4 linked regions of the Homo sapiens genome follow. The protein of the gene in region 1 interacts with the protein of each later gene in a biochemical or structural test. Each region holds a gene or a part of one and is shown in the gene's direction. Other genes may lie near its edges. The genes, in order: PKN1, CCNT2, PLD1 and AKAP9.

The links.
Region 2: the proteins of PKN1 (region 1) and CCNT2 form a complex in vitro, tested with the Homo sapiens proteins (one study listed by BioGRID).
Region 3: the proteins of PKN1 (region 1) and PLD1 form a complex in vitro, tested with the Homo sapiens proteins (one study listed by BioGRID).
Region 4: the proteins of PKN1 (region 1) and AKAP9 form a complex in vitro, tested with the Homo sapiens proteins (one study listed by BioGRID).

The regions. Positions count from the first base shown.
Region 1 is NC_000019.10:14,450,287-14,457,314, forward strand, and holds part of PKN1 (serine/threonine-protein kinase N1), read left to right. Parts: intron 1-31; coding exon 32-177; intron 178-609; coding exon 610-823; intron 824-1,542; coding exon 1,543-1,737; intron 1,738-7,028. UniProt on the Homo sapiens protein: PKC-related serine/threonine-protein kinase involved in various processes such as regulation of the intermediate filaments of the actin cytoskeleton, cell migration, tumor cell invasion and transcription regulation.
Region 2 is NC_000002.12:134,914,994-134,921,821, forward strand, and holds the start of CCNT2 (cyclin-T2), read left to right. Parts: upstream 1-3,828; 5' UTR 3,829-3,861; coding exon 3,862-4,019; intron 4,020-4,816; coding exon 4,817-4,898; intron 4,899-6,828. UniProt on the Homo sapiens protein: Regulatory subunit of the cyclin-dependent kinase pair (CDK9/cyclin T) complex, also called positive transcription elongation factor B (P-TEFB), which is proposed to facilitate the transition from abortive to production elongation by phosphorylating the CTD (carboxy-terminal domain) of the large subunit of RNA polymerase II (RNAP II).
Region 3 is NC_000003.12:171,681,461-171,688,488, reverse strand, and holds part of PLD1 (phospholipase D1), read left to right. Parts: intron 1-904; coding exon 905-1,118; intron 1,119-1,690; coding exon 1,691-1,804; intron 1,805-7,028. UniProt on the Homo sapiens protein: Function as phospholipase selective for phosphatidylcholine. Implicated as a critical step in numerous cellular pathways, including signal transduction, membrane trafficking, and the regulation of mitosis.
Region 4 is NC_000007.14:91,999,850-92,006,877, forward strand, and holds part of AKAP9 (A-kinase anchor protein 9), read left to right. Parts: intron 1-998; coding exon 999-3,386; intron 3,387-7,028. UniProt on the Homo sapiens protein: Scaffolding protein that assembles several protein kinases and phosphatases on the centrosome and Golgi apparatus. Required to maintain the integrity of the Golgi apparatus. Required for microtubule nucleation at the cis-side of the Golgi apparatus.

The DNA.
Region 1 (7,028 bases):
AGCCTCACTGCCCTGTATTCCACGCTCACAGGGAGTCCTGACCTGGGGGCTGTGGAGCTGCGCATCGAAGAGCTGCGGCACCACTTCCGAGTGGAGCACGCGGTGGCCGAGGGTGCCAAGAACGTACTGCGCCTGCTCAGCGCTGCCAAGGCCCCGGACCGCAAGGCAGTCAGCGAGGTGAGGGGCGGAGCTTTCATTAGAGGCGGGGCTTCAGCAAGGGGCGGTGCTTCAGCAAGCGGCGGGGAGTTCACCAGGAACACCCACGGTGAGGGGTGGAGCCTCAAAGGGGGTGGGACCTTCATAAGGGGTGGGGCCTCAGCCAGGGTAGACTACTGTGAGGGGCAGGGCATCAGGCAGGAACAGTGCAACTGTGAGGGGCGGGGCCTCAGCGAGGGGGCATGGTTTCAGGCAGGAATGGCCCTCGGTGAGGGGAGGGGCCTCTCCAAGGGGCGGGGCCTGGTTTTCCCAGAGGTGGGACCAAGTTGGTTTGAGGTTTAGCCCTCTAGGGAGGAGCTCAGTGTGAGACTCAGCCTGGGGGTGGGGCCTAGGCCTGCACTTGGGAAGGGGCAAGCCTGGTCCCGCCCCCAGCCCCCACACTTCCCACCACAGGCCCAGGAGAAATTAACAGAATCCAACCAGAAGCTGGGGCTGCTGCGGGAGGCTCTGGAGCGGAGACTTGGGGAGCTGCCCGCCGACCACCCCAAGGGGCGGCTGCTGCGAGAAGAGCTCGCTGCGGCCTCCTCCGCTGCCTTCAGCACCCGCCTGGCCGGGCCCTTTCCCGCCACGCACTACAGCACCCTGTGCAAGCCCGCGCCGCTCACAGGTGGGTCTGAGACCCTACCCCACCCCTGCAGCCCTGGGCCTCCGACTCCTCTCATTTCCCCATTCCTGTGACCCCCGACTTCAATCTCCGCTCTCCCCAACCCTGGACTCCCATTCCACCACTGTCTCCTCCCCTCCTTTGCCCTCTGATTCTGGGCTCTTGCCCACCCCCCCCACACCTCAGTTTCTCCATCTCTCTTCACCTGGCCCAGTATTTTTCTCCCAGCCCTTGTTCCCCAGCCCCACCTCGGCCTCACAACGCTCAGCCATGAGCCTCCTACCCGCCTGCTGCAGACCAGCCAGCCCCACCTTCCACAGACCCCTCAGCCATCTACCCCTCCAGACCAGCCCCACCGTAGACCCCTAGCCCATCTTAGACCTCAGATTGTCCACCGAGTCCTCCCCTAGAACCCCTAGTCCTACCCTGTTCCTGCTTGCCTGGGCCTACGGCCTGTACCCTGAGCCTACGGCCTGTACCCTGAGCCTCTCTTCTGCCCCTAAACTCCCGCATCTGAGCCCCTCCTGGAAGGACTGCTTCTCTCATATTCTCCTATCCCAGCACGGACATCCCGGCCTCATGCCCCATGCTCCATTCTGGTTGTCCCTCACTGGCTCCCACTTGTACCATGGCTGCGTCTGGATGTGTCCCCTCCCCGCTGTGGTCCCCTCCGCTCAGCCTGCCCCAGAAGTGGCCCCCTGCTGAGCTTTCCCCTCCTGCAGGGACCCTGGAGGTACGAGTGGTGGGCTGCAGAGACCTCCCAGAGACCATCCCGTGGAACCCTACCCCCTCAATGGGGGGACCTGGGACCCCAGACAGCCGCCCCCCCTTCCTGAGCCGCCCAGCCCGGGGCCTTTACAGCCGAAGCGGAAGCCTCAGTGGCCGGAGCAGCCTCAAAGCAGAAGCCGAGAACACCAGTGAGTGGGCATCGTGGGCCCTGAGAAACGAGGTGGCATTGGGGACCTGGAATGCCCCATATTTGTAAACCTTTAAAAAATAAGCCAGGGGTCGGGTGTGGTGGCTCACACATGTAATCCCAGCACTTTGGGAAGCCAAGGTGGACGGATCACTTGAGGTCAGGAATTTGAGACCAGCCTGGCCAACATGGTGAAACACTGTCTCTACTTAAAAATACAACTTAGCTGGGCATGGTGGTGCACACCTGTAATCCCAGCTGTTTGGGAGGCTTAGGCAGGAGAATTACTTGAACCCGGGAGGTGGAAATTGCAGTGAGCCATGATCACGCCATTGCCCTCCAGCCTGGGTGACAGAGTGAGACTTTGCCTCAAAAGAGAACGAAAACAACAACAAAAACAAAAAAACAGGCCAGGTGCAGCAGCTCATGCCTGTAATCCCAGCACTTTGGGAGGCTGAGACAGGAGGATCACTTGAGGCCAGGAGTTTGAGACCAGCCTGGGCAACATAGCAAGACCCTGTCTCTACAAAAAATAAAATGTAAAAATTAGCCAGATGTGGTGGCCCACACCTGTAGTCCTAGCTGTTCTAGAGGTGGGAGGATCACTTGAGCCCAGTGAGCTATCATTGAGCCATTTCACTCTAGCCTAGATGACAGAGAGACCCTGTCTCTAAATTAAAAAAAAAGAAAAAAAACTTCAAGTTTATTTAGATTAAAAAAAAGGCTGGGCGTGGTGGCTCACGCCTGTAATCCCAGCACTTGGGGAGGCCGAGGCGGGTGGATCACGAGGTCAGGAGTTCAAGACCAGCCTGGCCAGCATGGTGAAACCCCATCTCTACAAAAAATACAAAAAAATTAGCCAGGCGTGGCGGCGCGTGCCTGTAATCCCAGCTACTCGGGAGGCTGAGGCAGAGAATTGCTTGAACCCAGGAGGCGGAGGTTGCAGTGAGCCGCGATTGTGCCACCGTACTCCAGCCTGTGCAACAGAGCAAGACTCCATCTCAAAATAATAATAATAATAATAAATAAATAAAACAAATTTAAAAAGAAAGGAAAACCAAACAAGAAACCAATATATCATATTCATTAGGATGACTAATACTATTTTAAAAACCCAACAAAACAAACAGAAAATAAGTGTTGGTGAGGATGTGGAGAGAAATCAGAACCTTTGTGCACTGTTGGTGGGAATGTAAAATGGTGCAGCCCTATGGAAAATATATTGGCATGGCCGGGTGCAGTGGCTCACACCTGTAATCCCAGCACTTTGGGAGGCTGAGGGGGCCAGATCACCTGAGGTCAGGAGTTCGAGACCAGCCTGGCTATCATGGCAAAACCCCGTCTCTACTAAAAATACAAAAATTAGCTGGGCATGGTGGTGTGTGTCTGTAATCCCAGCTACTCAGAAGGCTGAGGCAGGAGAATCGCTTGAACCCAGGAGGCAGAAGTTGCAGTGAGCTTAGATCGAGCCACTGCACTCCAGCCTGGGCAACAGAGCGAGACTCTGTCTGAAAGAAAGAGAGAGAGAGGGAGGGAGGGAGGGAGGAAGGAATATTGGCAGTTCCTGAAACAAGTAAAAACAGAGTAAGCAGTCCAGGCGCAATGGCTCACACCTGTAATTCCACCACTTTGGGAGGTCAAGGTAGGTGGATCACCTGAGGTCAGAAGTTCAAGACCAGCCTGGCCATCATGGTGAAACCCCATTTCTACTAAAAATACAAAAGTTAACCGGGCTTGGTGGTGGTGCACGCCTGTAGTCCCAGCTACTCTGGAGGCTGAGGCAGGAGAATTGCTTGAATCCGGGAGGCAGAGGTTGGAGTGAGCAGAGATCATGCTACTGCACTCCAGCCTGGGTGACAGAATGAGACTCCATCTCAAAACAAACAAACAAACAAAAAAACAAGAGTAACCATATGATCCAAAGCTACTTCTGGGCATATCCCCAAAAGAATTAAAAACAGGGCCTCGGACATTCCATAATGCATACATATTTCAAAACAACATGTTGTGCATGATAAATATATATAATTTTTATTTGTCAGTTTTAAAAATAGTGATAGAAAAATATTTAAAAAAAAAAAAAAGGGTCTCAGAGATATGTATACCTGTGTTCATAGCAGCATTATGAAAGCCAAAAATGGAAGCAACCCAGATCCACCAATAGATGAATGGGTAAACAAAACGTGGGCCAGCCATGCAATGGAACATTGCTCAGATTTAAAAAGGAAAGAAATCCTGCCAGGCGCAGTGGCTCATGCCTGTAATCCCAGCACTTTGGGAGGCCGAGGCAGGTGGATCACTTGAGGTCAGGGGTTCGAGACCAGCCTGGCCAACATGGTGAAACCCCATCTCTATTAAAAATACAAAAATTAGCCGGGTGTGGTGGCACATGCCTGTAATCCCAGCTACTCAGGAGGCTGAGGTAGGAAAACCGCTTGAGCCCAGGAGGCAGGCGTTGCAGTCAGCCAAGATCATGCCACCGCACTCCTGCCTGGGTGACAGAGTGAAACACTGTCTCAAAAAAAAAAAAAAAAAAAAGGAAAGGAATCCTGTCTTATCCTGCAACACGGATGAATCTTGAGGACATTAGTCTAAGTGAAATAAGCCAGTCCCCAAAAGACAAATATTGTATGATTCCAGTTATATGAGGTTCCTAGAGTAGTTAGATTCATAGAGACAGAAAGTAGAATGATGGATGCCAGGGAGTAGAGGGAGGGGGAATGGGGAGTTTATTATTTAATGTGGACAGAGTTTCAGTTTTGTAAGGTGAAAGTTCTGGAGATGGATGGTGGTAATGGTTGCACAGCAATGTGAATGTACTTAATGCCACTGAACTGGATGGACACTTTAAAGTGATTATGATGGTAAATTTTATGTTACATGTATTTTACCATAATTTTTTTTTTCTTGAGACAGATTCTCCTCTGCTGCCCAGGCTGGAGTGCAGTGGCACCGTCTCAGCTCACTGCAACCTCTGCCTCCTCGGTTTGAGCGATTCTCTTGCCTCAGCCAACCCAAATAGCTGGTGGGATTACAGGCGTGCGCCACCACACCCGGCTAATTTTTGTATTTTTATGGAGATGGGGTTTCACCATGTTGGCCATAATTTTTTTAAAAGAAAATTTGATTCGTAATCTCATGGCAAAAAAGGAAAAAGAAAGAAAATTAATACGTATGTACAAAAAAAAAAGGGAGTGTGGAGAAGAGTAACAGGAGAGCAGACACCCATATTACCACCACCTGCGTTAGGAAATAGAATATGGCAGCCAGGTGCCACGGCTCATGCCTGGAATCCCAGCATTTTGGTATTTGTAGGAGGATCACTTGAACCCAGGAGTTCAAGACCAGCCTGGGCAACATAGCAAGACCTTGTCTTTACAAATAATTTAAAAATTGGGGCATATGGCCAGGTGTGGTGGCTCACGCCTGTAATCCCAGCACTTTGGGAGGCCGAAGCGGGTGGATCACAAGGTCAGGAGATCGAGACCATCCTGGCTAACACAGTGAAACCCCAACTCTACTAAAAATACAAACAATTAGCCAGGCGTGGTGGTGGGCGCCTGTAGTCCCAGCTACTCGGGAGGCTGAGGCAGGAGAGTGGCATGAACCTGGGAGGCAGAGCTTGCAGTGAGCCGAGATCGCGCCACTGCACTCCAGCCTGGGTGACAGAGCAAGACTCTGTCTCAAAAAAAAAAAAAATTGGGGGTACATGTCATCAGGCCCTCCTGAATCTGTGTCACAGAAAAAAAAACTAAAGGGAAAAAAAGAGAAGACAAGCCAACCAAAAATTAACCAGGCGTGGGCATGGTGGCTTGTGCCTGCGGTCCCAGCTACTTGGGAGGCTGAAGTGGGAGGATTGCTTGAGCGCAGGAGGTCAAGGCTACAGTGAGCTGTGATTGCACCACTGCATTCCAGCCTGGGCAACTGAGCGAGACCCCATCTTAAAAAAAAAAAAAAAGGAAAAGAAATAGAATATTTCCAGCTCTCCAGAAGCCCCCTCTTGTCTCCTCCACAATTCCATCTCCTTCCTCTGCCATAGAGGTGGCTACTCTCCCGACTTTTATCATTTCCTTGCTATAATTTGTAGTTGTAGAACCCCATGTTTGCATCCCCAAAAACTTTTGTTTAATTTTGCCTGGTATTAGAACTTTATATTGACAGGCTCATACAGACTATTCTATCACATGGCTTCTTTCATTCAACATTGTTTAGGGGCTAGGCATAGTGGCTCATGCCTGTAATCCCAGCACTTTGAGAGGCCGAGGTGGAGGGATTGCTTGAGCCAAGGAATTTGAACCCAGCCTGGGCAACATGGTGAAACCCCACCCTACAAAAAAATGCAAAAAACAAAACCAAACTAAAAAAAGCATTGTTTTGGTAGACTCATCCATTTTGTTGTGACAAGCTATAGTTAATTCATATTTATTCCTGTTTAGTAATCCATTATGTTAGACTGAGCCATATCGAATTGCCTCTTTCTGAAAGCAAAAAAATAGTTAAATATCAGCAATTTCGTACTTCAGCTACTAAGATGGTATAGCAGTTTTAAAATATTAATTCTCCTGTTAATGGACTGTGGGATGCCTCTATTTTGGACTGTTACATACACTTTATATAAATGCATCTCCTGATGTATACCCACATGCATTTGGCTAGGGTAAATCCTCAGGAGTGCCTGGGCGCGGTGGCTCACGCCTGTAATCCCAGCACTTTGAGAAGCCAAGACCAGTGATCACTTGAGGTCAGGAGTTCAAGACCATCCTGGCCAACGTGGCAAAACCCCATCTCTACTAAAAACACAAAAATTAGCTGGGCATGGTGGTGTGCGCCTGTAGTCTGAGCTACTTTGGAAGCTGAGGCACGAGAATTGTTTGAACCCAGAAGGTGGAAGTTGCAGTGAGCCGAGATTGTGCCACTGCACTCCATCCTGGGTGACAGAGAGAGACTCTGGCTCAAAAAATAAATGAATAAATAAATCCTTAGGAGTATGTGGCTGGGACTTCCATGTAGAATAAAATTGAATTTGGATCCCTGCCTCACATCACACCATGTAAAAAAATCAACTGGATTAAAGGCTTCAATGTCAAATGCAAAACTTTACAGTGGGAGAAAAGTTATGGAGGGGAGGATTCATTTTAAAAAGATAGCAGACAGCTAGGCCTGGTGGCTCATGCCTGTAATCCCAGATACTTGGGAGGCTGAGGCAGGAGAATATCACTTGAGGCCAGGAGTTTGAGACCAGCCTGGGCAACATAACAAGACTCATCTCTACTGAAAAAAAAAAAAAAAAAG
Region 2 (6,828 bases), on another chromosome or scaffold:
CTCGGCTCACTGCAACCTCCGCCTCCCGGGTTCAAGCAATTCTCCTATCTCAGTCTCCTGAGTAGCTGGGATTATAGGCGCCTGCCACCATGTCCAGCTAATTTTTTTTTTTTTTTTTTTTTTTGAGACGGAGTCTCCCTCTGTCGCCCAGGCTGGAGTGCAGTGACACGATCTTGGCTCACTGCAACCTCCACCTCCTGGGTTCAAGCGATTCTCCTACCTCAGCCACCCCAAGTAGCTGGGACTACAGGCATGCGCCACCATGCCCAGCTAACTTTTTTTGTATTTTTAGTAGAGACAAGGTTTCACCATGTTGGCCAGGCTGGTCTCCAAATCTTGACCTCAGGTGATCTGCCCGCCTCAGCCTTCCAAAGTGCTGGGATTACAGGCATGAGTCACTGCGCCTGGCCAGAGGTTTTTAATTTTAATGAAGTCCAACTTACCAGTTTTTTCTTTCATGGATTGTACTTTTGGTGTTGCATCTAAAACCTCATTGCCAAACACAAGGTCAACTATATTTTTTCCTATGTTATCTTCCAGAAGTTTTACAGTTTTGCATTTTACATTTAGGTCTGCAGCCCACTTTGAGTTAAATTTTGTGGAAGGTATAAGGTCTGCATGTAGATTTTTTTTTTTTAATGTGGCTTTCCGGTTGTTCTAGCGCCATTTGTTAAAAAGACTATTATTGCTCCATTGACTTGCCTTTGTTCCTTTGTCAAAGGTCAGTTGACCATTTATGGGTGGGCTCTCTATTCTGTTCCATTGATCTATGTGTCTATTCTTTCTCAAATACCACACCGTCTTGATTACTGTAGCTTGATGTTAGGTAATGTCAGTGCAACTTCTTTGGTATTGTGTTGGTTATTCTGGGTTTTTTGCCTTTACATAGAAGTTTTAGAATCAATTTGTCAATATGTGCAAAATCACTTGCTGAAATTTTGGTTGGGATTGCACTGAATTTGTAGATCAACCTGGGAAGAATTGACATCTAAATTGATTCTTCTAATCTATGAACTCAGAATAGCTTTCTGTTATTTAATCTTTTTTTGTTTTCCATTAGAGTTTTATTATAGTTTTCTGCATATAGATCCTGTACATATTTCAGATCCATATCTTTTTTTTTTTTTTTGGAGATAGAATCTTGCTCTATCACCCAGGCTGGAGTGCAGTGGAGTGATCTCGGCTCACTGCAACCTCTGCCTCCTGGGTCCAAGCAATTCTCGTGTCCCAGCCTCCCAAGAAGCTGGGATTACAGGCATGCACTACCGCACCCAGCTAATTTTTGTATTTTTAGTAGAGACAAGGTTTCCCCATGTTGGCCAGGCTGGTATTGAACTCCTGGCCTCAAGCAATCTCCCACCTTGGCCTCCCAAAGTGCTGGGAGTATAGGTGTGAACCACTGCGCCCTGCCTAGATCCATATCTAAGTACAGGTTGAGTATCCCTAAATCTGAGAATCAGAAACACTCCAAAACCCAAAACTTCAAGCCCCCACATGACATTCAAAGGAAATGTTCATTGGCGCATTTCAGATTTAGAATTTTTGGATTAGGATGCTCAATGGCTAAGTTTATAATTCAAATATTTCAAAACCTAAAAAAACCTGAAATCCAAAACACATCTGGTCTCAAGCATTTCAGATACGTGATACTCAACCTGTATTACTTTGGGAGACGGTACTATTGTAAATGGCATTTTTAAATTATAAATTCCAATTGTTCATTGCTGGTGTATAGGAAAACTGACTTTTGTATTCAACCTTATATCCTAAAATTTTACAGAAGAAGTTTTATGTCTTCCTTCCCAATATGTATATACTTTTAATTTACTTTTCTTGTTAGCTAGAACACCCAGTACCACGTTGAAAAGACTGGTGAGAGGGGACATGCTTGCCTTGTGTCAGACTTTAGGTGGAAAGAATGTAGTTTCTCACAACAGAAACAATCTATTGTTAGCTGCAGAATTTTTGTAGATGCTCTTTATCAAGTTGAGGAAGTTCTCCTTTATTCCCAGTTTGCTGAGTTTTTATCATGAATGGATGTTGAGGATGGGCACTTCTTTTATTTGTGTGTGTGTGTGACAGGATCTCACTCTGTCACCCAGGCTGGGGTGCAACCTCACCTCTCAGGTTGAAGCGATACTCCCAAGGAGCTAGGACTACAGACGCCACCACATCCAGCTAATTTTTTAAAAAACTTTTGTAGAGGTGGGGTCTCATTATGTTGCCCAGGCTGGTCTAGAACACTTTGGCCTCCCAAAGTGCTGGGATTACAGCCGGGAAACACTGCACCTGGCCAAGGGTTTGCACTTTTAAAATGTTGCTTTAAATCAATCTATTCCAGAAATTGTAAGCAACATAAAACGTAAAGCAAGGGAAGTGAGTATGAAATAGCAACTGTTACAAAAACTGCCTACTATAATCAATATTCTTGTGCAATGCAGTATGCTGAGCGTGGGAGCCCCATAACAATCACTTGCCTCCATGGTCTTTGGCAAATAGATATTACTTTATTTTTTATTTTCGAGACAAGGTCTTGCACTATCGCCCAAGCTGGGGTGCAGCAGCGAGATCTAGCTCACCGCAGCCTCCACCTCCTGGGCTCAAGCCATCCTCCCACTTCAGCCTCGGGAGTAGCTGGGACTACAGGCGCGCCACCAAACCTGGCTAATTTTTGTATTTTTGGTAGAGACGGGGTATCGCCATGTTGCCCTTGCCCTCGAACTCCTGACCTCAAGTGATCGGCCCACTGGACCTCCCCAAGTGCTGAGATTACAGGCGTGAGCCACCGTGCCCGGCCTCCAAATAGTTAAGACTTTAAACTTAGAAACCCTATTCACAACACAAACTCCGAGTGAAGCTCAGTGGCATTTTCTTACAGGAAGAAATACAGGAGTTAATCAACAGGTATGTGGGATGTTCCCACATCAAATCCTAAAGATAAAATTTTAACTCAGTTCCTCCTGCACTATCTGATTCTCCCCAACCTTGTCTCGCAGAAACCACAGCGCAGCCTGAAAACACGCCCCGTCTAGATTCAACACCTCATTTAGAAATTCAATTTCTCGTTGCTAGTTGGATAGCGTTTGCCAAGTAATTTGAAAAAATAAAAATAAACCAAGTGGTCTGGGATTTAAACAAGATAATGTAGGGTGAAAAAAGCACTCAGGTGCGGACAGCCATGGAGCGTGACTTCCTGTGCACTCTTTCCCCGCCAGCTCAACGCCAGAGCCGCGCGCTAGGCGGAGACTGTTGGTGGCGGAGGCCGGAGTCGCACGCCTACGAGACTGCGCGGACCCGCCCAAAAGGAAAATGGAAGTAGTGGCGTGAGGCTGCGACAGTGAAGGTTATTTTTCTCTTTTTAAAGGGCCGCTAGACCTCCCGTCTAAAGGAAGCGCCCGACGGGCCTCCGAAGTACACGCCCAGGCCCCCACAGCGCAGCCGCCCGACCGCCTCTCTTCACACCGGCCAGAGTCCACCCTCTCCCACTTTCCCCTCCCCTCCCCTCCCCGCCCCTTCCCTCCCCACCCCTTCGCCCCGCCAACCCTAGACCCGGCATGCGCTGCGCCGACCTTTTCCTTCCGAGCCGACCTCTCCACCTTCGGCGCCTCCCAATGACAAGCGGCGCGGAGCATTGTGGTCCCGTGCGCAAGAGCGAGGCCGAGGGCAGAAAAAGAAAGCAAAAGACTAGGGCGAGTCGGTAGAGCGGGCCCCGCGCATGCGCAAGGGCGGAGGCGGTGGTGAAAAAGGGTGGTGCGTGGTCTACGGCGAGCGGAGTGGGGCGGGGTCGCGCGCCTTGGCGGGGAGTCCGCGAGCCAGGAGGGGCGGGGGGTGAATGAAGGAGCGGGCGGAGGAGGAAGTGTCATGGCGTCGGGCCGTGGAGCTTCTTCTCGCTGGTTCTTTACTCGGGAACAGCTGGAGAACACGCCGAGCCGCCGCTGCGGAGTGGAGGCGGATAAAGAGCTCTCGTGCCGCCAGCAGGCGGCCAACCTCATCCAGGAGATGGGACAGCGTCTCAATGTGTATCCTTTTCTGTTCGCCGCCGCTCACGCCCTGTTTCCCTTGCCCGGTCGCCGGGCCTGGTGCCCCGCGAACATGGCGCCGCCGGCCTCGGCCTTCGCTGGGCCTCGGCGCCGCGGTCAGGGAAGTAATGTTCCGGCTCGGGCAGTCGCGAGGGGTCAGCAGAGGAAGGGAGGAGGAGATAGGACCCCAGGAATGCGGGCCAGGAGCCTGCGTTGTGTAATCTGTTTGGGGCAGCGCGTGGTGGTGGCGGCGGGGGTTGGGAGTGTGGCTCAGGCGAAAGAGGAATTTTAGGGATTATTGCAGAAAAGGGGCGGCTCCCTGGACTTGTCCCTGACCCCGAAGGGTTTGAGAGGTAGGAGGGTTAGCGATGCTGAAAGGCCTAAGTGTTTGCCGCAGCCTTTCCCGGCTCTCGTCGCCGGCTTGATGGCGGCTCTCTTCTACCTTGGGAGCGTACTGGAGTTCTTTATGTTCTTGGCGTGGTTTTGTATGGGTGTGTGCGCGCGCGTTTCAACTGTTTCATTTTGAGTTTAGTTAGTCGTAGCCATTGATAAATAGTTCCAGGGCCCTCAGCGCTGTTAGAGTGAAAAGATCAGCAGTTCTTATTCCCATTTATTTGGCGTCAAGCCTATTCTCTTCCTGCCGCCCCACCCCCCGCGGGCATTTATTTCTTTATTTCCAGTTTGGGGTTTGGATTTGAATGGGAGGTATTGGAAAAGAACCTGGGAATTTTCCATCAAAATTGTTCTGGGAATGAGATCTTGCTTTTGTCAGATATTTCCTAAATATTACGTTCCAGCTCTCAGCTTACAATAAACACTGCGATTGTTTATATGCACAGGTTTTATATGCACCATTCTTTCACCAAATTCAACAAAAATGTAAGTACTAGTTGTCTGTTTTTACTGTCCGCAAATTTGAGGGTAAATCGATACGCAGAAAAAAAGTTGGTCATTGCGTTGTTGGATTTAGTGTTCTGAATTAACGGTAAACGTATATCACGTGATAAATATTTTGCTTCAGATGCGGTGTTTTTGTGTTTTTAAAATTTATGATGAATTAAACTGCAAGGCACTGTTAAGCTCTGCCAGGCCTTTTAAGCTAAAAAAGAAAAACATTTATTTCTTTACAGAGTTATTACATAGGTTTTCTTCATTTAAATTCTATACTTAACATTTGAATAATTTCAGTAGTGATGTACAGTGGAATTGGGCAAGCCTGGTCGTTCTGTGATACATCTTAATTATGTTGGACTCATTGTTTAAAAGACTGTCAATTGAGATTAAATTAATTATGACATTCTTTTGAAAGAGCTATTTAGTAGAAATAATTCATTTCTTCATTTGCTAACCTAGTAATTTCTTAAGATGTCAACGTTTCTGTTTATCACGTTAGCATCAGTTGTCTCCTAAAATTTTGGGTGATTCAAACGTCCACTCTTGCTTCAGATATAGTACGTCAGGAGTATGTTTATGTATTATTAGTAAAATTTACACCTGAATATTAAGGTATATAACCTGTAAACCTTGACAAATAGAGTAATGGCATTTTGTTGAAATGTTAATTTCATTTATGAAAGATACGAGTTTGGTGTATGTTGAGTAACACGCATACTGTGTTGTGTGTGTTAAAGAAAATTGCATATTGTTTAGAAATGTTTAACTCTGCTTTAATTCTGTCTTTATTTGTTACTTTTTATCATAGTTATTTTTAGAATATTATTCTGAAAGGTATGTGTAGAAAAATGGACCAAAGAAGACTTTCTGCTATTTGTGGATAGTCATTAGGACTTATTTGCTAAGAAAACAATCCTAGGAAAGATCCTCAGAATATTATTTTTGAAATGGAAGGAAAGGCTTCATGGTTTAGATTGAGTCCTACCTTAATCTCTTCGGATCCTATTTCATTTATCAGTTTGGCATACAGGTTTATCTTGGACCACAAGTATTTTAATATACATTTTGATCTCTTGAAGACTTCTTCTATTTCTTTTTTAAATCTGCATAATTCTTGCTCTGTTGCTTCTAGTTTCCTAGTTATTTCTTGTGCATAACATTTAGGTCAGTGATAGTGTTATGGAAGAGAAAGGAAGCCATTGGTGATAACATTTAGATTAAGGGAATTCATTATAAATTGTCTCCAAAGGCAGTAGTGAACTAATGAATGTTAATATAAATTTGGCATTCCTTACGTAACCCTGGATAATAATGGTAGAAATTACAAATCAAAATAGTTCTGACTATTCTTTATATGGCTACAGATGTCCCATTTGCCGAATCAGGCATACTTTTGTACTTCCAATAAATGATCTAGCCACAAGTCTTCACTTCTTTTATTTATTAATTTTTTTTTTATTTTTTTGAGACAGAGTCTCACTCTGTCACCCAAGCTGGAGTACAGTGGCGCTGTCACAGCTCACCACAACCTCTGCCTCCCTGGTTCAAGCTATTCACCTGCCTCAGCCTCCTGAGTAGCTGGGACTACAGGTGTGTGCCACCACTCCCGGCTAATTTTTGTATTTTTAGTAGAGAGGGGGTTTCACCATGTTGGCCAGGCCGGTCTTGAGCTCCTGACCTCAGGTGATCCGTCCGCCTCGGCCTCCCAAAGTGCTGGGATTACAGGCACGAACCACCGTGCCCGGCCATCTTCACTTCTTTGTTTTGAGCCCTCCTTATAATTTGTCTTTATGGCGTGGTTGGCGTGCTTTACAACAAATACCCTGCTTAAAGCCAGAATTCACAACTTTAGATTGTCATTTGCATTCTAGCTTTCACTATTTTACTTAAATGTTTTCCTTCAATAAAAAGGCCA
Region 3 (7,028 bases), on another chromosome or scaffold:
ACTTAGCATTGCTGAGTCTGTTCTTCTCTTGTAAGAAAAGAAAACAGATTCAGTGGAATTTTGGCTGTCCCATATTCAGCTTTGTTTTCCATTTTAATTAAGATTTATTTTTTATTCAGAAATAAGATTCATAAACAAAAATATGTGGCAATTGAGATTTAGGTAGTAAAAAGCCTTAAGTATCTGCCACAGTTTTTGGAAAGTTCCTACTTAAAGATATACAAAAACAGGATAGGTCAGTCTGGGGTCATTTAGAGGGAATTTGAGCCAGAAGTGAATAACTTCCCAAAGTGCCTTTTAAATAGAGCTGCCAAAATATCTGTATGTGTATATCAATCTGCTTGCTATTTCAACTAAATGGCTGCCAGAATATGAATACACTTATTAAAAAAAGTGTATATCAATCTGCTTGCTATTTCAACTAAATGGCTGCCAGAATATGAATACACTTATTAAAAAATTTGATGGGCTTCATCTTATTTACTGCTGGAAAATAGTGCAAAACTTATGCAAAAATAGCAATTTAGTGCATAAGGAACAGGGAAAATGATTGACAGAGGAAGCCTTGCTTACTTAATGTTTATTAGAGGAACAAGTTCAGGAGCTCAACACTGAATGTAACCCATGTAATTGTATTTGAGATTAAAAGTTTAATTGGAGTGAAATTTCAAGAATTTGGCCTACTGAAAAAAGACCATAGCAGAACTCCTCATATTCCTTTGGTAGTTTTTAAACAGTTCACAAGAATCCACCACTACCCTGTGGCTGACCTCAGACATTATTGCATGTCTGTTATAGAACCTCCATCATTTGTAAACTTTATACTTCAGCTCTACTTGAATTAAAGAACCACACTGCAGCATGTCTTATGCAGTGTCTTTTTTTAAAAAAAAATTTTTCTCAGCCTGCCGCAATGGAGTCTATGGAATCCTTAAGACTCAAAGATAAAAATGAGCCTGTTCAAAACCTACCCATCCAGAAGAGTATTGATGATGTGGATTCAAAACTGAAAGGAATAGGAAAGCCAAGAAAGTTCTCCAAATTTAGTCTCTACAAGCAGCTCCACAGGCACCACCTGCACGACGCAGATAGCATCAGCAGCATTGACAGCACCTCCAGTAAGTCATGGCCTTGACTAGAATTTATCTTAACTACCCACTGTTCTTCCATAGCCAGACACTACATACCTGTTTTTAAAATCTGTCTTTCTGTAATGGAGTAGAATGAGCAATGTTGAGAGGTCGCTATATCATTCTATTCAACCTCATGCCATTTGGTGGCTTTGTTTGCCTCATTTTAGAACAGATTTATTGTTTTATCCACACAAAAGTCATAACGACCACGATTACCACTTCTAATGGTAGCAGAATGACAAAGGGTTTCTAAAATATGCCAAGCCATAAAAGAAAAAGGTATTAGATGTACTTTATAAACTTTTCTTAGAAGAAATTACATTTATCTTCCTATCCAGAAATATATCAAGCTTATTTCGTCAAACATCAGACTTTCTACATCTTGTAAATTTACTATTCCTTTGAAATCCATCTTAAAGCCCTACAATTTTCTGTTGCACAGAATCTTAAGACTGATGTTATAGCCCTGCCTGGTTTTAAAAATGATCAGCTTTGCTTTCCAGTTTAGAAAATTTGATATTTGTATTTTTTTGTAAAAAAATTCTTAATTTCTCTAGGTTATTTTAATCACTATAGAAGTCATCACAATTTAATCCATGGTTTAAAACCCCACTTCAAACTCTTTCACCCGTCCAGTGAGTCTGAGCAAGGACTCACTAGACCTCATGCTGGTAAGTAATTTGTGAAGTGGCAGAACTCCCTTAGGCTTGAGCTTTGGTTGTGTTGTCTGCTGCATGGGCATAGTGAATGTGTTTCCAGATTGGCTTTCTGTTTGCAATTTTTATGCTACGTATATTATTGAGAGCCTGCTCTGTGCAAAGCATTCTGTAGTATCCAAGATCCCTACTCCCTAAGAACTTATAGCAGCAAAGACAAAACAGACCTAATAAGAGAAAATGCATGGCACATGCAATTCAATAGTGTCATGGAAGTTCTATGGAAGGAGGGAGGAATTCCTCTCTGATGATGCAGAAAGACTTTTTGAGGAGGGGACATTTGGGTTAGGCCTGGAAGTAATTTAATTGGGGTAGGTGATAGGAAGTCATTGCAAGTGAGGGAGGTGAGTTGAGCAAAGGTGCTGGAATGGGAAAGCACCAACTGCTTTCAAATTGTGTAAAATGCATTATTTAGCTAAAATGCAGTTTTTGATATAAGACTAAGAAGATATATGACATTCACATTTGGGAGCTGGAATTTTATTTGGTTAAAAATCTTTTTTTTTTTTTTTTTTTGAGATAGAGTCTTGCTCTGTCACCCAGGCTGCAGTGCAGTAGGGCCGTCTTGGCTCACTGCACCCTCCGCCTCCCAGGTTTTAGCGATTCTCCTGCCTCAGCTCAGCCTCCTGAGTAGCTGGGATTATAGGCGTGCATGACCGTGCCTGGCTAATTTTTGTACTTTTAGTAGAAATGGGGTTTTGCCATGTTGGCCAGGCTTGTGTTGAACCCCTGACCTCAAGTGATCCGTCTGCCTTGGCCTCCGAAAGTGCTGGGATTACAGGTGTGAGCCACCGCTCCTGGCCAGTTAAAAATCTTGAAGGCCTTTGGGTGGATGTGTCATGCTGTGTGAATTTTCAGAAATTACAATCTGATAGCCTTTGGTAAGAAGATACTCCAGATACTCGAGGAATTAATGAATGACTAATAAGTTTAACTTGTGGTGGGAATAAAGAAGGATTTGGCCGCTGGTCAGATATGGGGATAAGTAATCATCATAATAAATGACACTAGTAAGATCATAAGCTAACATTTATTTTGCACAGACTCTATCCATCACTGCCCTGAGTAGTTGCAGTGCTTGGTAGTGATATTGTCATCTCCTTTTTACAGATGAAGAAACTCAGGGTTAGAGATGATACATGACCTGCCCAATGGAGTTCCAATTTATCATCCTCCCAGTGCCCATAATTAAGACCTGTGATTTAGCAGAAATAAAGATTACTATGTTATGCTTTTTTGGCTAGAACCTAAGGCCAGGGCTCTCATGTCCTGTTTAGCAGATGAGAGTTACAGTCTAGCTCACATGCCTGAATGTGAGTCACCTGTGGCTTGCAGGTGCTAATGAACCTGAAAAATTATGCTAGACTTTGAGTAATGATTCCCAGCATTCTTTCATCTAGGGCAGGGGTGTCCAATCTTTTGGCTTCCGTGGACCACATTGGAAGAAGAATTGTCTTGGGCCACACATAAAATATACTAACACTAATGATAGCTGATGAGCTAAAAAAAGTTGCAAAAAAAAATTACAATGTTTAAGAAAGTTTGTGAATTCGTGTTGGGCCACATTCAAAGCCATCCCGGGCCGCATGTGGCCCACAGGCTGTGGGTTGGACAAGCTTGGTCCAGCTACGCTGCATTTTAAAAAATGCAATAATCAACTACACACAATGAACTAAAACTTCAGTGTAACTGTTAAATAAATTTGTGTCTATAAATCATAACAGCATCGATATATATTTAAGAATGGAGAAGAGGCCAGGTGCAGTGACTCACACCTGTAATCCCAGCAATTTGGGAGGCTGAAGCAGGAGGATTGCTTGAGCCCAGGAATTCAAGACCATCTTCGGCAACGCAGTGAAACCCCCTCTCTACAAAAATTAGCTGAGTGTGGTGGCATGCATCTGTTGTCCCAGCTTTTCTGGCAGCTGAGGTGGGAGAATTGCTGGAGCCTGGAAGGCAGAGGTTGCAGTGAGCTGAGATCATGCCACTGCAGTCCAGCCTGGGTGACAGAGGGAGACCCTCTCTCACACACACAAAAACAATTTTTAAATTTTTGAAAAATAAAAATGGAGAAGAACAAATATGGGGAGACATATATTTATTTAGCATACACCTAGTACTGGGTGTATGTGTGGATTCAGGGACAACTCCCAGTAATTCCTGTGCATGACAAAGCTTCAAAGTCCTGGGAAGTAGGAGGCCTCTGGGAAATCTAGGAAGCCAGGTCAAGAGTGCATGCAGTGGCCGATATTAGAGGTAAAGGGTTGGAAACAGCTCCAGGTAGTGCCTTATCGTTTCAATGTGTAACTTTGCTGCTTTATTACTGAAGTTAAAAATGAAGTGGAGGAAAGGAGGTTGCCAACCCATGAAGATTATGGATCTGAATTATGACTGATAGTGTTGCTGGCAATAGGATTGACAGCAAGTGGAAAAGATGTGAGTGAGGTGCTGAGTCCAGTAAGTAACTCACGCCTACCCCAGGTTGACAGAGGTGATATCCACAGTGGTGATCTGAGACACTGATCATACATGTGTATGGTGTTGCTGATGAAAAGTACCCTTGACATCTGTTTACAACCCCTCACTGATAAACTGAATATATGTCTAGTGTAGCATTGTTGAGAGACAGAGAGAGAGATAGAGAGAGAGAACAACCTAAACGTCAAAGAGTAGGGAAATGGTGAAGAACATAATGAATGGTAACAAATGGTTCATCTCTTTTATGGAATTGGGCAATGATTACAACTGTAGTTGGGGATACAAAAATAAACATAGAAGATTTATTTATTTAATTAAATAAGTGTTTATTGAGTTTCTGTTATATGCCAATCACTATTCTGGGTGCTAGAGATGTGGTGAATAAAACAGATGAAGTGCAATTAACTAGTTGGAGGGTAAGGATGGGAACTGTGTATACAAATAGAGAGTCAAACACATTTCAGGTGGTGATAATTATCACGGAGAATAGTTGAGCATGATCCGGGAGGAAGAGCATAGGAGAAGAGTTACTATTTTGTAAAGGCTCATCGGAGAATACATCTCTCATGAGGTTAGTTTTCAGCTGACATCGAAAGAAAGAGAAGAATGAGGATAAGAAACTGAGAGAGGGTGTTTCCGACAGAAGGAATAGCAAGTATGAAAGGCCATGAGGTAGAGGGGTTGGGTGTGTTCCAGGAATACGGCTGTAGTGAAGTGGGCTAGGAGAGGATGATAAGAACAAAATCAGAGAGGTGGGCTGGGGTGGGTTATGTGAGGTCTTGCAGACCACTGTAAGATTTTGACCCTGAGTGAGATAGGAAGTCATCGGATGGTCTTGAGCGAAGGGTAGGCGAGGGCTGACTTACATTTTCCAAGGATCATTCTTCAGAGCAGACCAGGGTGGCAAATGGTGACTCTGCAGGTTGTGAATATATTTTGAGGGTCGAGCTGACAGCATTTGCCGATGAACTAGATACAAGATGTGAGAGATGGAGAGGACTCCAAATCTTTGGCCCCACTGGAAAGATGGAATTTCCATGAACTGAAATGAGGTGGCTATGGGAAGAGCAAGGAAAATTTGAGGACAATTGCCACTGTATCAAAATATGTTCGTGAAGGCAGCTGACAAAGGACATTCAATGATGCTATCTTTGTTAGGAAGATGGAGCGTGAGGTGATTTATTTTTTTCCCACATTGTTGGTACTGTTTTCATTTTACTTTTATAGTCAAATATAAATACAAATTTAATTTTTTAAAATGAAAACAGTTTACCTAAAAAGAAAAGCCAAAGGATCATGGGGTCCTTCTAGAGCAGTGCTTTCCAAAGTCGATTCCTTGGATCCTGGAGTTTTTAAAAGGCTTTGAGGAGAACATTGAAGTAGGTGAACCCCAGGACCCTCCCACAGCTATTGGTACCTCTTCAACCAGAACAATCCCACTTGTATCTGTTTTAATTATTGGAGTTCCTTCTGAACTTGTTTTCAAAAAAGAAAAGTTCTACTAAAAAAATGAAGGAAGTTTAAAGAGCAAGGCTCTAGATTTAAATCATGTAATACCTTAAAAACTCAGGTTGCCTTATAAAACTTGAAACCCAAATTAAGCATGGAGTGACTCTTCGTTAGAAATTTAAAACTGAATATGAACTTGAGTTAATGACTTCCTTTTCCTGAGAATGCAAAGAGAGTTAGCCTCTCTGCAATATCAATTTCACTTGACCGCATATGACCATGTTGAATTGGGCTCCTTGTTGAATTAAACCTCCTGGTGTCATACAGAAATCAGTGTGGAGTGAACATCACTATGGGTTTTTATATAGAAAAACTGCACTAAAAACGTGGTTAGGAATCATATCTGAAATATATGTTTTTCAAAATCACTCAGTCATTTTCAAGATTTTTTTTCATTCAGAATTATGTTCTAAGAGGGAGAATTTTGCTTGATACTATTTTTAAAGTGTTGAATTTTATTCCCTTTCTTTCTTTCTTTCTTTCTTTTTCTTTCTTTCTTTCTTTCTTTCTTTCTTTCTTTCTTTCTTTCTTTCTTTCTTTCTTTTTCTTTCTGTATTATACTTTAAGTTCTGGGATACACGTGCAGAACATGCAGGTTTGTTACATAGGTATACAAGTGCCACAGTGGTTTGCTGCACCCATCAACCTGTCATCTACATTAAGTGTTTCTCCTAATGCTATTCAGCAACTATGTGCTGATCTTTTCCTTTTAAGCAATATTAAATAGGTAAGTGAGGGAAAAATTATTTTTGCAATTTAGTTGAGACAGGCTTTTCAAATTTGAATGTCTCGTCACAAGGGATAATATTAAGCTGTTTCTAAACTGTTCTTAGGAATGCAATGGATAGGATGTGTAAGATTCATCTAGTGCTGTTAAATAGCTTGTTATCTAATAGGTGAGCATGAGTTTTAAATATTTTACAAACCTAATATTTTAGTAATTCATTGAGGGAAGATACTCCTACTGCAAGAGTCATCATTGATCCACAGACGAAATACAGGTCTACAAACCCTTAACCACGATTCTAAATTCCAAAAAATTTTGAAAACCAAAATATTTTTTAAAATATAACTTGTTCAGTGCCTGTATTGGAACTGGCCTTGAACATATGTAGAAATTCGGTAGGTAGAGACTAAAAAGGTAGAAAAACAGGCATTTTAGGTAGATACTACATCTTAAGACCCAGATATA
Region 4 (7,028 bases), on another chromosome or scaffold:
TTATGTTCATTCATTCATTCATTCATTCATTCAAGGCACCTTTAAGTCCTGTTTGCCTGGGACTCCTGTCTCTTTAAAATGATTTTACTTACCTACTTATGTCCTGATCCATTCTGTAGATTTCATGTATTTATTTGTTTTTGAGACTATAGCCCTCTATTACTTACAGAGGCAAGTAAGTTACTGAAGCAAAACTTTGACCTAGGGCCTCTGCTTGACTTTGTCATGCTGAAGTAATCACCATAACAGATATGCCTTGGCCTGTGTCTGGGCGTAGCCCTATCTCCATTCCAAAATAGAATCCCAAATAAGAACTGGGGGAGAGTATCTGCTTTGCTTTGAAAATTCTGTTTAAACCAAAAGTCCTAGGACCAAGTTGTTATGCCATAAATGGTATAGTTGTCTTAGATGTCACTTGAGGTTCAGCCTTTTAAGCATTGCATATCTCTAAATTTCTGACTGACTTAAGAGCCCAGGACTGAAGTTAAGACAGACCGTTAGGAGTCTGTTTTTGTTGTTTTTCTTTTTCCATAGCCCTTGCCCATGACACACATTGAAGTCACCAGAATACATGTGAGGAACTTTTATTTATTTTTATCTTTCTGAATGTGTCTAGAGTATATGCAGTACTTTAGCTATAGAGAATACTAAATATTTAGAATGTTGATCAGTTAATAAGAAAAATGAAAATGTAACAGTTTGGAGACATCTAAAATCAGACTGGGTTTTTAAACTAAAAATTTTAATCACAGAAATGTTAAGAGAAATTTCTTCTAAGAAGGCCAAAACTACTGTAGTGTTTGCTCACAAGTAGTGTTGGTTACACGAGTTCTAAGTGTCATTATTGTGGAAAAAATTGAGGGGCAGGACCAACATTTACTTTTTGTAGAATTTTTTAAAAGAGAAACTTCTGTCAGTCTTTTGGTAATGAGATGAAGCAGTATAATTTGCCAGAAGCTAAAAATGCCATTCTTACATTTTCATTTTTTTTCCTAAAGGAACAAGATAAAAAAGTAGAAAACTCAAATAAAGAAGAAATACAGGAAAAGGAGACAATCATTGAAGAATTAAACACAAAAATAATAGAAGAAGAAAAGAAAACTCTTGAGCTAAAGGATAAATTAACAACTGCTGATAAATTACTAGGAGAATTACAAGAACAGATTGTGCAAAAGAACCAAGAAATAAAAAACATGAAATTAGAGCTGACTAATTCTAAGCAAAAAGAAAGACAGTCTTCTGAAGAAATAAAACAGTTAATGGGGACAGTCGAAGAACTTCAGAAGAGAAATCATAAAGACAGCCAGTTCGAAACTGATATAGTACAACGAATGGAACAAGAAACACAAAGAAAGTTAGAACAACTCCGGGCAGAGCTGGATGAGATGTATGGGCAGCAGATAGTGCAAATGAAACAAGAATTAATAAGACAACACATGGCACAGATGGAGGAAATGAAAACACGGCATAAGGGAGAAATGGAGAATGCTTTAAGGTCATATTCAAATATTACAGTTAATGAAGATCAGATAAAGTTAATGAATGTGGCAATAAATGAACTGAATATAAAATTGCAAGATACTAACTCTCAAAAGGAAAAACTCAAGGAAGAACTAGGACTAATTTTAGAAGAAAAGTGTGCTCTACAGAGACAGCTTGAAGACCTTGTTGAAGAATTGAGCTTTTCAAGGGAACAGATTCAGAGAGCTAGACAGACAATAGCTGAACAAGAAAGTAAACTTAATGAAGCACATAAGTCCCTTAGTACAGTGGAAGATTTGAAAGCTGAGATTGTTTCTGCATCTGAATCCAGAAAGGAACTAGAATTAAAACATGAAGCAGAAGTTACAAATTACAAGATAAAACTTGAAATGTTAGAAAAAGAAAAGAATGCTGTGTTAGACAGAATGGCTGAATCACAAGAAGCTGAATTAGAGAGGCTGAGAACACAGCTTCTATTTAGTCACGAAGAAGAGCTTTCCAAACTGAAGGAAGATTTAGAAATTGAACATCGAATAAATATTGAAAAACTTAAAGATAATTTAGGCATTCACTATAAACAGCAGATAGATGGTTTACAGAATGAAATGAGTCAAAAGATAGAAACCATGCAGTTTGAAAAGGACAATTTGATAACTAAGCAGAATCAATTAATTTTGGAAATTTCAAAGCTAAAAGATTTACAGCAGTCTCTTGTAAATTCAAAGTCAGAAGAAATGACTCTTCAAATCAATGAACTTCAAAAAGAAATTGAAATACTCAGACAAGAAGAAAAAGAAAAGGGTACACTTGAACAAGAAGTTCAAGAATTACAACTTAAAACAGAATTGTTAGAAAAACAGATGAAGGAAAAAGAGAATGATCTTCAAGAAAAATTTGCACAACTTGAAGCAGAGAATAGCATTCTTAAAGATGAAAAGAAAACCCTTGAAGACATGTTGAAAATACATACTCCTGTTAGCCAAGAAGAAAGATTGATTTTCTTAGACTCCATTAAGTCCAAATCCAAAGACTCTGTGTGGGAAAAAGAAATAGAAATACTTATAGAGGAAAATGAGGACCTCAAACAACAATGTATTCAGCTAAATGAAGAGATTGAAAAGCAAAGGAACACTTTTTCATTTGCTGAAAAAAACTTTGAAGTTAACTATCAAGAGTTACAAGAGGAGTATGCTTGCCTTCTCAAAGTAAAAGATGATTTAGAAGACAGTAAAAATAAACAGGAATTAGAGTATAAAAGTAAACTTAAAGCACTTAATGAAGAGCTTCATTTGCAAAGAATAAATCCAACTACAGTGAAAATGAAAAGTTCTGTCTTTGATGAAGACAAAACTTTTGTAGCAGAAACATTGGAAATGGGTGAGGTTGTTGAAAAGGATACAACAGAACTCATGGAAAAACTTGAGGTAACCAAGCGAGAGAAATTAGAGCTGTCACAGAGACTGTCTGATCTTTCTGAACAATTGAAACAGAAACATGGTGAGATTAGTTTTCTAAATGAAGAAGTTAAATCTTTAAAGCAAGAGAAAGAACAAGTTTCATTGAGATGTAGAGAGCTAGAAATCATTATTAACCACAACAGGGCAGAAAATGTACAGTCATGTGATACTCAAGTAAGCTCTTTATTAGATGGAGTTGTGACCATGACAAGCAGGGGTGCTGAAGGATCAGTTTCTAAAGTAAATAAAAGTTTTGGTGAAGAATCAAAAATAATGGTGGAAGATAAAGTTTCTTTTGAAAATATGACTGTTGGAGAAGAAAGTAAGCAAGAACAGTTGATTTTGGATCACTTACCATCTGTAACAAAGGAATCATCACTTAGAGCAACTCAACCAAGTGAAAATGATAAACTTCAGAAAGAACTCAATGTACTTAAATCAGAACAGGTATGTTTACTTCTTCATATATGGTAAAGCACAATGAAAAAAATGTACATTTCACACTAAGGTTTCACCTTCATAGAACATAAGTTCATATCCTTACAAGAGAATGAAAATGAACCCTCTGATGTAATTTTAACTTGAGCCTATCATTTATTTATCATTTAAGTACTTTTTTTTTTAAACCATTGTTGCCTTTCTTTCAGTTAATCTATCTTGTATATTCTGCTCAGGAAATAAAACACTAATGGATTCAGATTTTCTTTGGAAAGACAAGAGTTTGTATAACTTTATGGAGAATCTCAGCATTAGAAAAGTTATTAATTTCATTTTGTAATTTTTGTTATAATCTCAAAGATTGGTTTCAGCGTTTTTATTTCATAGTGATGTTTTCAAGTCTCTACAACTGAAAATGAACTCCTAAGCTTTTTAATAGTCTCTATAGTTGTTAGGTGGTTATGAAATTATATTTTCCTGGGAGAAAAAAAAACCTTTGATTTAAGTCCTAGAGTTTTTTCAGAGTCTTTATTATACCTGAAGGGGAAAAAACAGTATTAACTCTAAATATAGTTAAAGAATTATATGTATATAATAATAGATCACTCCTGATAATTTATATTTGCCAGATACTGATATTAAAATAACAGGAAAATTCTGCTATCTACAATGTAATGGTGCTAACTAAAGTTTTATGTGTTTCTTCATTTTTCTAACATATTTATTGACTCTCTTGGCAAGTACGAATATAGTGGCCAACAAGAGAGAGGTTTCTGGTCTCAAAGAGCATATATTTTAGTGAGGGAGGCAGATGATAAATGAAACAAGTAGGATAGTGAGAAATAGTGATAAATTCTCTGAAGAAATAAAACAGGATAATGTGATAGGGAATGATGGAATTATTTCTGAGGGCTCTGTTCTGTTCCATTGGTCTATATCTCTGTTTTGGTACCAGTACCATGCTGTTTTGGTTACTGTAGCCTTGTAGTATAGTTTGAAGTCAGGTAGCGTGATGCCTCCAGCTTTGTTCTCTTGGCTTAGGATTGACTTGGCAATGTGGGCTCTTTTTTGGTTCCTTATGAACTTTAAAGTAGTTTTTTCCAATTCTGTGAAGAAAGTCATTTCTGTGAAGAAAGTCATTCCTGATGGGAATGGCATTGAATCTATAAATTACCTTGGGCAGTATGGCCATTTTCACAATATTGATTCTTCCTATCCATGAGCATGGAATGTTCTTCCATTTGTTTGTATCCTCTTTTATTTCGTTGAGCAGTCGTTTGTAGTTCTCCTTGAAGAGGCCCTTCATATCCCTTGTAAGTTGGATTCCTAGGTATTTTATTCTCATTGAAGCAATTGTGAATGGGAGTTCACTCATGATTTGGCTCTCTGTTCGTCTGTTGTTGGTGTATAAGAATGCTTGTGATTTTTGCACATTGATTTTGTATCCTGAGACTTTGCTGAAGTTGCTTATCAGCTTAAGGAGATTTTGGGCTGAGACGATGGGGTTTTCTAGATATACAATCACGTCATCTGCAAACAGGGACAATTTGACTTCCTCTTTTCCTAATTGAATACCCTTTATTTCTTTCTCCTGCCTGATTTCCCTGGCCAGAACTTCCAACACTATGTTGAATAGGAGTGGTGAGAGAGGGCATCCCTGTCTTGTGCCAGTTTTCAAAGGGAATGCTTCCGGTTTTTGTCCATTCAGTATGATATTGGCTGTGGGTTTGTCATAAATAGCTCTTACTATTTTGAGATATGCCCCATCAGTACCTAATTTATTGAGAGTTTTTAGCATGAAGTGCTGTTGAATTTTGTCCAAGGCCTTTTCTGCATCTATTGAGATAATCATGTGGTTTTTGTCTTTGGTTCTGTTTATATGCTGGATTACACTTACTGATTTGCGTATGTTGAACCAGCCTTGCATCCCAGGGATGAAGCCCACTTGATCATGGTGGATGAGCTTTCTGATGTGCTGCTGCATTTGGTTTGCCAGTATTTTATTGAGGATTTTTGCATCGATGTTCATCAGGATATTGGGAATGTTGGAGAGGGTAGTAACAACATTAAATATGGTGGTCAGGAAACATCTCTAGGAGGAATTGACATTTGAGCTGAAATCTGAATGACATTGAAATTAGAGCAATTGTAAAGACACGGGTAAGTTTAAAGAACAGAATGAAGGCTTGTGTAGTTGAGTTTGAGAGAGCGGGAGAGTGGAAGAAGAGTTTGAAGGAGGAAGAGACCAGACCTTGGAGAATCTTGCAGACTTTGGAAGCCATTGGAAAGTTTTCTCTTTTTATTCCTAAATATATCATATTTATGATCTTATATCAAATGTCGAGATATTTTATATTTATGATTTATATCAAATGTAGAGATATTTTATATATTTACTTGCCTAAATAGAGTCAAGAAATTCGAATTGCTTAACGATTTTTTTGTTTGTTTGTTTTTGAGACCGAGTCTCACTCTGTCACCCGGGCTGGAGTGCAGTGGCGTGATCTCAGCTCACTACAACCTCCGCCTCCCGGGTTCAATCAATTCTCCTGCCTCAGCCTCCTGAGTAGCTGGGATTACAGGCATGCACCACCACCACGCCTGGGTAATTTTTGTATTTTTAGTAGAGACAAGGTTTCACCATGTTGGCCAGTTTGGTCTCAAACTCCTGACCTTAGGTGATCCAACAGCCTCGGCCTCCCAAAGTGCTGGGATTACAGGCGTGAGCCACCATGCCTGGCCAAATTGCTTAACTGTTAATGTTCTGTTAAATGTCTGGAATTGTTTTCAAAACCAAAATGTATGGCAGTTACTTGTGAAAATGTCACACATCTTTTAAAATTTTTTAGGAAGCATTTTTGGGAGAAGACCTGAATTTGACCCTCAGATGGTCAAATTTTCTTATTAGGAATTCTAATTTTCTTTTTCTTTTTCTTTTTTTTTTGAGACAGGCTCTCACTGCCGTCCAGGCTAGAGTCTCATGGCGCAATCACAGCATCCTGCAGCCTTGACCTCCTGGACTCAGGTGATCCTCTCACCTCAGCCTCCTGAGTAGCTAGTATTACAGGCATGCACCACACACCCAGCTAGGTTTTTGTATTTTTTGTAGAGACAGGGATTTGCCATGTTGCCCAGGCTGGTCTCAAACTTCTGGGCTTAAATGATCTTCTTGCCTTGGCCTCCTGAAATGCTGGGATTACAGGCATGAGTCTTTGTCACCAGCCAGAATTCTATTTTCTGTACTAAAGAGATACTAAAAAGATACTTTTGATGGCATTCAGATTCCCTCTATTTGACATTGACTACATAAAGTAAAGCCTGTAAACTTCCTGCCCGTTCATCATTACCAAGACAAACCTTTATTGATGGGAAGGGAAGTTCACAGAAGAAATCGAGCAGTGACTTACACAATAGTAACACCTAAGAGCAGCCTAAATATGCTTGAAATAATGTGGATGCCACACAGATATCTCTAATACACTTAGGTAGTTTGGGCAGAAGGAGAAAAATAAAAACATCATAGAAGTCTTTTCAGTGTTGGGATGCAAGGAAGAAGGAAGAGTGGCAGGAATTTTTTAGATACTGATTAATTATTGATGCTGGGAGAGGTCATAGATTGAAGTGTATGTGTTTAAAATTGAAGATGATTAT